2 separate regions of the Homo sapiens genome follow, and region 2 is reported to be linked to region 1. The links are microRNA targets in miRTarBase. Many come from high-throughput screens and were not tested one by one. Region 1 holds a microRNA gene; the other region holds the end of a gene's coding sequence.
The links. Region 1 holds the annotated microRNA hsa-miR-626 (AGCUGUCUGAAAAUGUCUU, at 1,934-1,952, opposite strand). A microRNA usually pairs through its seed, bases 2 to 8, with sites in the 3' UTR of a target mRNA and lowers its output. Matches are read on the target gene's strand: a 7mer-m8 pairs with bases 2 to 8, a 7mer-A1 pairs with bases 2 to 7 and ends in A, and an 8mer does both.

Region 1 (4,725 bases):
TATTTTTTTCACTACTTGCTAACCCAGTGTCTTCATAAAACTTTATAAAACTTAAAATAGGCACAAGCAACCATTACATGAATGTGTAGTTACTTGTTCCTTGCACAATTTCTACTTAAGATTTTAACCTTACTTGAAAATCCTCCATCATCATTCTCAGTAAACTATCACAAGAACGAAAAACCAAACACCGCATATTCTCACTCATAGGTGGGAATTGAACAATGAGAACGCATGGACACAGAAAGGGGAACATCACACTTTGGGGACTGTTGTGGGGTGGGGGGAGGGGGGAGGGATAGCATTGGGAGATATACCTAATGCTAGATGACGAGTTAGTGGGTGCAGTGCACCAGCATGGCACATGTATACATATGTAACTAACCTGCACATTGTGCACATGTACCCTAAAACTTCAAGTATAATAATAATAAAAAAAAGAAAATCCTCCAATAGAAGCCGGGTGTGGTGGCTCGTGCCTGTAATCCTAACACTTTGGGAGGCCGAGGCAGGCAGACTGCCTGAGCTCAGGAGTTTGAGACCACTCTGGGGGCAACATGGTGAAACCTCATCTGTACTAAAATATTTTTTAAAAAATTGGCTGGGCGCAGTGGCTCACGCCTATAATCCTAGCACTTTGGGAGGCTGATGCAGGTGGACTACCTGAGGTCAGGAGTTCAACATGGTAAAACCCCGTCTCTACTAAAAATACAAAACATTAGCTGGATGCAGTGGCACACACCTGTAATCCCAGCTACTCGGGAGGCTGAGGCTGGAAAATCGCTTGAAACCAGGAGGCAGAGGTTGCAGTGAGCCAAGATCGCACCACTGCACTCCAGCCTGGGTGACAGAGTGAGACTCCGTCTCAAAAAAAGAAAAAGGAAATCCTCCAATGGAAGATTTCCACCTCCAGTTAGAATGTGGAAGATCACAAAATATCATCACTTTTGCCATAACCATGAGAAAACACTAAATTATTTTTCTTACAAGATACTGAAGACCTCTAGACATAAATAAGCCTAAATGAAGTGAATTACAGAAGAAGATCAGCCTTCTCTAGGTGACCGGAGATAGCTACTGCTTTCAACCCTAAGCAGCATTTGCACTGTGTGAAGATACAGTAAGGAGAGAAAAAAGCAACTATAGGCAAAGGATCTTTGCAAAAACACAGAGAAACCAACTTTTAATGCCCGAGCATGGGCAGAATCTCGAGGACCCCAAATAGGAAACTAGTCCTCACTGCTGTCCAATTACCACCCCCTCCAGAGGACTTCTGCAGAACAAACAGCAGTGCCGCAGAAAGGCTGGCCTGGAAATAAGAGAACATGTAGTCTACCAATGCTTAGGTCCTAAGGTCCTGCCAGGGATAGGAGACCAACCACTCCTCCCTTGACACAGCTGAAACGAGAGGTGAGCTGAAATTTACTAAAATAGGAAGCCACTTGAAATCACCTAGACTGAAGGACAGAGAAACAAACAAAACAAAACAAAACAAAAAAGTGTCAGAGATCTCTGGGACAACATAAAATGATCTAACATACTAGTAACTGCCCTGCCAAAAAGACAAGAGAAACAAAGTGAAGAAATACTTGAAGAGAAAATGAACAAAAATCTTCCAAAAGCAAAAGATTTTAACCCACAGATCCAAGAAGCTCAGTAAGCAACAATGGGGACGAATAGAAGGAAAAAAAAAAAGTCATATCTAGGCACATCAAGGTCAGGCTGCTGAAAATGAAAGATGAAGAGAAAAATACTGAAAGCAGCAGAGGGAAAAACAGACATTACACTGGAGGAACAACAAAGAGAACAACAGACTGACTAGTGACTCAATGGAAACTATGTAAGTCAGAAGACAATATACTTTACCGCCAATCATGAAGTGTTGAAAGAAAAACTAATGTTCTATACCTACCAAAAGAAGCCTTTAAAATTGAAGACATTTTCAGACAGCTGAGATCATTCAGATTGCATAAAAATACTCCTCAGCTCTCAAATAAGACAAATATATCAGTTCTTGCCACGTCTACTTACTTGTACTAGAGATTCTATCAGGATGATTAGGCAAGAAAAAGAAATAAAAGGCATCCAGATTGTAGAGGAAAAAGCAAAACTATCTCTATTCACAGGTAAATGATCTTGTATATGGAAAATACTAAAGAATCCACTAAAAAACTATTAGAACTAATAAATCAGTTTAGCAAGATTCCAGGATCCAAGACACACACACACACAAATTGTTTTTCTACAAACTAGCAATGAATGTCAAAAGTGAAATGAGGAAGTAATTCCATTTTACAATAGCATCAACAAGAATAAAATATTTAGGAATAAATTTAACAAAAGAAGTTTAAGACTTATACATGGAAAACTATAAAACACTGTTGAAACAAATTAAAGACCAAAATAAATAGAAAAATATCCCACGTTTATGGACAAAAAATATTTCATATTGGTAAAACAGCAATAATCCCTAAAGTGATCTACAAATTCAATGCAGTATCTACCAAAACTCCATCTGTGATTTTTTTTTTCAGAAAGGGACAAACTGACCCTAAAATTCACAAGAAAATGCAAGGGAGCCACCAAAAAAAAAAAAAAAAAACAAAGCAATCTTGAAAATTAGAAACAAAGTTCTCAGAGGACTCACACTTCCAGGTTTCAGCTTAGTACAAAGCTACAGTAATTAAGACAGTGTGTCTATTAGTTTGGTTTGGTTTTGAGACAAGGTCCCACTGTGTCACCTAGGCTAGAGTGCAATGGTGCAATCATACCTCACTGCAACCTCAAATTCCTGGAAACAAGTGATCCTCCCACTTTAGCCTCTCGAGTAGCTGGGACTACAGACACATACCACCACACCACTCAGCTATTATTTTTATTTTTTTGTAGAGACAGGTTCTCTTTAGTAGAGACAGGGTTTCACCATGTTGACCAGGCTGGTCTCAAACTCCTGGGCTCAAGCTATCCTACTGCCTTGGCCTCCCAAAGTGCTGAGATTTTAAGCATGATCCACCGTGCCCAGTCAACAGTGTGATATTGACATTAAGACTAGATATACAGATCAACTAACAGAATTGAGAGTCCAGAAATAAATGCCCACATTTATGTCAACTGATTCAATTGCCAAGGTGCCAAGACAATTCAAGAGAGGAAAGAATGGTCTTTTCAACACCAAAAAACTGTGTTCACGCAAAGACTTGTATACAAATGTTCACAGCAACATTATTCGTAACAGCCAAAAACTAAAAACCTTACTGTCCAACTGATGAATAAAAAAAATGTGGTAATGTCCACACAATATTATTTGACAATAAAAAGAAACGAAGTACAGATACATGCTACACATGGATGAACCTTAAAAACATCAAGCTAAGTAAAACAAGCCAGGCACAAAAGACCACATATTAAATGATTCCATTTATATAAAATATCCAAAATAGGCAAATCTACAGAGACAGAGACAGGTGGTTGTGTTGGATTGGGTGGAGCTGGGGAGTGGTTGAGGGAAAATGGGAAGTTACTTTTAATGGGTTTTCTTTCTGGGGTGCTGGTAATGTCCTAAAACTGACTGCAGCACTGAAGTAACGGTTGTGCAATCCTGTGAATATATTAAAAACCATTGAACTCTACACTTTCAGTTGGTAGGTGAATTTTATGTAGATTTTATTGTATGTGAATTATATCTCAATTTTTAAAGTTTTTAAAAAATAACTATTAAAGGAAGTTCTTCAGACTGTTAGAAAATGAAACAATATGGGCCAGGTGTGGTGGCTGAGGCTGAGGTGGACAGATCACTTGAGGCCAGGAGTTCAAGACCAGCCTGGCCTACATGGCAAAACCCTGTCTCTACTAAAAATACAAAAATTAGTCGGGTGTGGTGGTGCATACCTGTAGTCCCAGCTACTCAGGAGGCTAAAGCAGGAAAATCACCTGAACCTGGTAGGCAGAGGTTGCAGTGAGCTGAGATCACATCACTGCACTCCAGCCTGGGTGACAGAGTGAGACTCTATCTCAAAAAAAAGAAAAAAAAAAAAGAAAAAGAAAATGAACCAAAATAAACACAGATCCAGAAACAGATGAAAACAAATAAATAAATACGTAAATATAAAAGACTTTTCTTATATTATTTAAATGACTACTGACTTTTTTTATTTTTAAGGAGAGAAGGAGAGAGGGAAAGAGGAGAAAGAGAGGGAGAGAGAAAGAAAAGGAGAGAAGGAGAAAGGGAGAAAGGAAGGGAGGAAGGAGGAGGGAGAAGAGAGGGAGAGAGGTAGGGAGAGAAAGGAAGAGGGAGAGAGGGTAAGGGAAGGCAAGAGAGGATGAGAGCGAGCCACAGAGAGAGGGAGAGGGTACACACCAACTACTGACTGTTTAAAGCAAATAAAGTAACAAGGTTTAGAGGCTTATATCACATAGAAGGACATCAAATATAAGTGCATTAGCAGTTCATTATTCAAATTATATTCAATAAATTAAGGATGCACATTGTAATCCATATAACACTGCTATATACTGAATTGTGTCCCCCACCAAATTTGTATGTGGAAGCCCAAACAGGGCTTTAGGAGAAAATTAGGGTTAAAAGAGGTTTTAAGGGTAGGACTCTAATCCAACAGGATGGTGGGCTTATAAGAAGAGGAAGAGAGACATCCCCCGCTCCCCCCATGTGTGGACATAATAAGAAAGCAGCTATATATGTATACAAGCCAAGATGAGACATGAGAA
Region 2 (3,000 bases), not on the chromosome of region 1:
TCTTTATGTCTGAGGGTTTTGTGGACAGGCTGTGGAAGGATGGATCCTCTTGCTGTTTCAGAATGGGCTTTGCTGGCTGGTCCTGTGCACTTGCTGACCTCAGGTCTCTGCCTCTGTTTCAGGCATCATTCACGCTAGAGGACTGGTTCGGGAGTGCTTGGCAGAAACGGAACGGAATGCCAGATCCTAGCTGCCTTGTTGGTTTTGAAGGATTTCCATCTTTTTACAAGATGAGAAGTTACAGTTCATCTCCCCTGTTCAGATGAAACCCTTGTTTTCAAAATGGTTACAGTTTCGTTTTTCCTCCCATGGTTCACTTGGCTCTGAACCTACAGTCTCAAAGATTGAGAAAAGATTTTGCAGTTAATTAGGATTTGCATTTTAAGTAGTTAGGAACTGCCCAGGTTTTTTTTGTTTTTTAAGCATTGATTTAAAAGATGCACGGAAAGTTATCTTACAGCAAACTGTAGTTTGCCTCCAAGACACCATTGTCTCCCTTTAATCTTCTCTTTTGTATACATTTGTTACCCATGGTGTTCTTTGTTCCTTTTCATAAGCTAATACCACTGTAGGGATTTTGTTTTGAACGCATATTGACAGCACGCTTTACTTAGTAGCCGGTTCCCATTTGCCATACAATGTAGGTTCTGCTTAATGTAACTTCTTTTTTGCTTAAGCATTTGCATGACTATTAGTGCTTCAAAGTCAATTTTTAAAAATGCACAAGTTATAAATACAGAAGAAAGAGCAACCCACCAAACCTAACAAGGACCCCCGAACACTTTCATACTAAGACTGTAAGTAGATCTCAGTTCTGCGTTTATTGTAAGTTGATAAAAACATCTGGAAGAAAATGACTAAAACTGTTTGCATCTTTGTATGTATTTATTACTTGATGTAATAAAGCTTATTTTCATTAACAATTTGTATTAAAATGTGGGTTCCTTGAATTCTTACGTGCTGTTTTATTTTTTTGAGACAGGGTCTTGTTTTGCCACCCAGGCTGGAGTGCAGTAATATAATCTTGGCTCACCGCAGCCTCAACCTCCTGGGCTCAAGCAATCCTCCCATCTCAGCCTCCCTAGTGGCTGGAACTACAGGTGTGTGCCACTATGCCTGAATAATTTTTAAAAGACTTTTTGTATTGAATGAATGGGTGTGTGATGGAAAAAAAATTTTTTTTGCAGAGATGAGGTCTCACTATGTTGCCTAGGCTGGATCCTGGGCTCAAGTGATCCTTCCACCTTAGCCTCTCAAAGTACTGGGATTATAGGTGTGAGCTACCACGCCTGGTGTAAAGAAGTGCTATTTTAAATAATCTCTCATGAAAGTGTTTGAAATGCTTGTTCCCCGGTGCCGTGAAGAAATAGCACTTGAACATAAATTTAATTTACTCAGCAAGGCCATTTTTACTTCCCGCAGAAAGGGTACATTCGCCAGCAGTTTTGCCACGAGAGTACACCGAACAAAGAGACAGGGTCATTTGTAACCTGATGCGTCCACCCTACTGCTGTGTCCGGTTTCCATTGGCTGGAACGGGACCTCATATTCTGTATTTGTCCTGATTGGGAAGCAACTTAAAACTTTTTAAAAGAGGCGAAGGCAGAAGAGAACAAAGGAAGGAGAAAGTAACTTGTGGAATGGTGAGAAAGGTAAACACTTTTAAATAAGGAAGAGGAACAGGCTATGACCTAATGCTTGCTCCGACCAGTGTAAGCATGCCAGGACAAATATTTAGGCTAAATTGTGGGAGCTAAGAACATAAAGTACATTGATTTCTTTACCACGGCTAGCAGATAATTAGGAATGTTAGCACAGGTCTTTGAATAAATTTTGCTTCGAAGAGAAGTTACCGTTTATTCCAAATTAAATGGGGAGGAAAGTCTTTGGAGAGGAACCTCTACTTTACCTTTTACAAGAGGTAGGAGATGCCTGTTCAAACTGTATTTTCCCATCTGACACGGAAACATTTTGGTGATATCATTAGCACAGTTGGCTGGGGAAAGAATGTGTTTGCTAAGTCAGAGGTAGGGATAAAGTGAAGTTGCATTATGGGTGTATTTTAAGTGCAGCAAACTTAAGTGTATGCTAGGAAAAAAAAATAGCAGCAGCAGTTTTTAAAAAAAAAATTTTTTTTTTTTTAGATGGAATCTCCCTCTGTTGCCTAGGCTAGAGTGCAGTGGCTTGATGTTGGTTCACTGCAATCTCTGCCTCCCAGGTTCAAGCGATTTTCCCAGCTTAGCCTCCCGAGTAGCTGGATTACAGGAGCGTGCCACCACACCCAGCTAATTTTTGTATTTTTAGTAGAGATGGGATTTTACCATGTTGGTCAGGCTGGTCTCCAACTTCTGACCTCAGGTGACCCAGCCGCCTTGGCCTCCCAAAGTGCTGGGTTTACAGGCGTGAGCCACCACGCCCGGCCAGAAGCAGTATTATTGAGTTGGCCTGTTACCCCATGGTTAGGCCATTCTCAGTTCGTAGGTGCTTATCCTGTGGGCTTTTGGTGGGTGCTACAGGAATCTTTTTCATAAAGTACGGCTCCTAACTTCAAGCTACTTCATATGGTGCTCACTGGAAGAATTATCTGCTCTGGTGCCAGGGAAAAAATGGGCTGCACTGGATGTGTTGAGAGTCCACGTGGTGGTCTCTGACAGTGCCTCCCAAAGGGATTTTAATTCTTACTCTATACCTTAGGCCCTAAATACCTGCAATGAGAATTTGCTTTGCTGAGCAGTAGACAAAGACAAATGAGAGAGACTTGTCTTTCTTTGATGCAGGCATGAGGCGAATTCTCAGCCATGACAAGGCTGAAGGCCAGCAGGAACAGGCTCTAGCGAAATGGGTGCTGTGTCCCCTTCCTGCATGTGGCAGAAAGTTGCAAAGGTATGAGAGAGGAGACAAACGGAAACCATTCTCCCTTATCTCCAGCTCCAAATTTCCCCTCCCACTCTTACTGGTTTCTTAGGTGTTGTTCTAGAGCCTTTATTTTCTACAGGGCGT

Region 2: the mRNA of CDK2AP1 is a reported target of hsa-miR-626. Seed matches in the 3' UTR shown: 7mer-A1 at 596-602.

What each region holds. Positions count from the first base shown.
Region 1 is chr15:41,688,872-41,693,596 of GRCh38, reverse strand. MIR626 (microRNA 626) reads right to left here and starts at 2,012; the gene lies at 1,919-2,012. All of the region lies in intron 2 of MGA (MAX dimerization protein MGA), which reads right to left.
Region 2 is chr12:123,258,926-123,261,925 of GRCh38, reverse strand. CDK2AP1 (cyclin dependent kinase 2 associated protein 1) reads left to right here. Exons shown (of 4, transcript NM_004642.4): 4 at 123-950. The coding sequence ends at 190. Among named protein-coding and RNA genes, the nearest start is that of CDK2AP1, 11 kb to the left of the region's middle.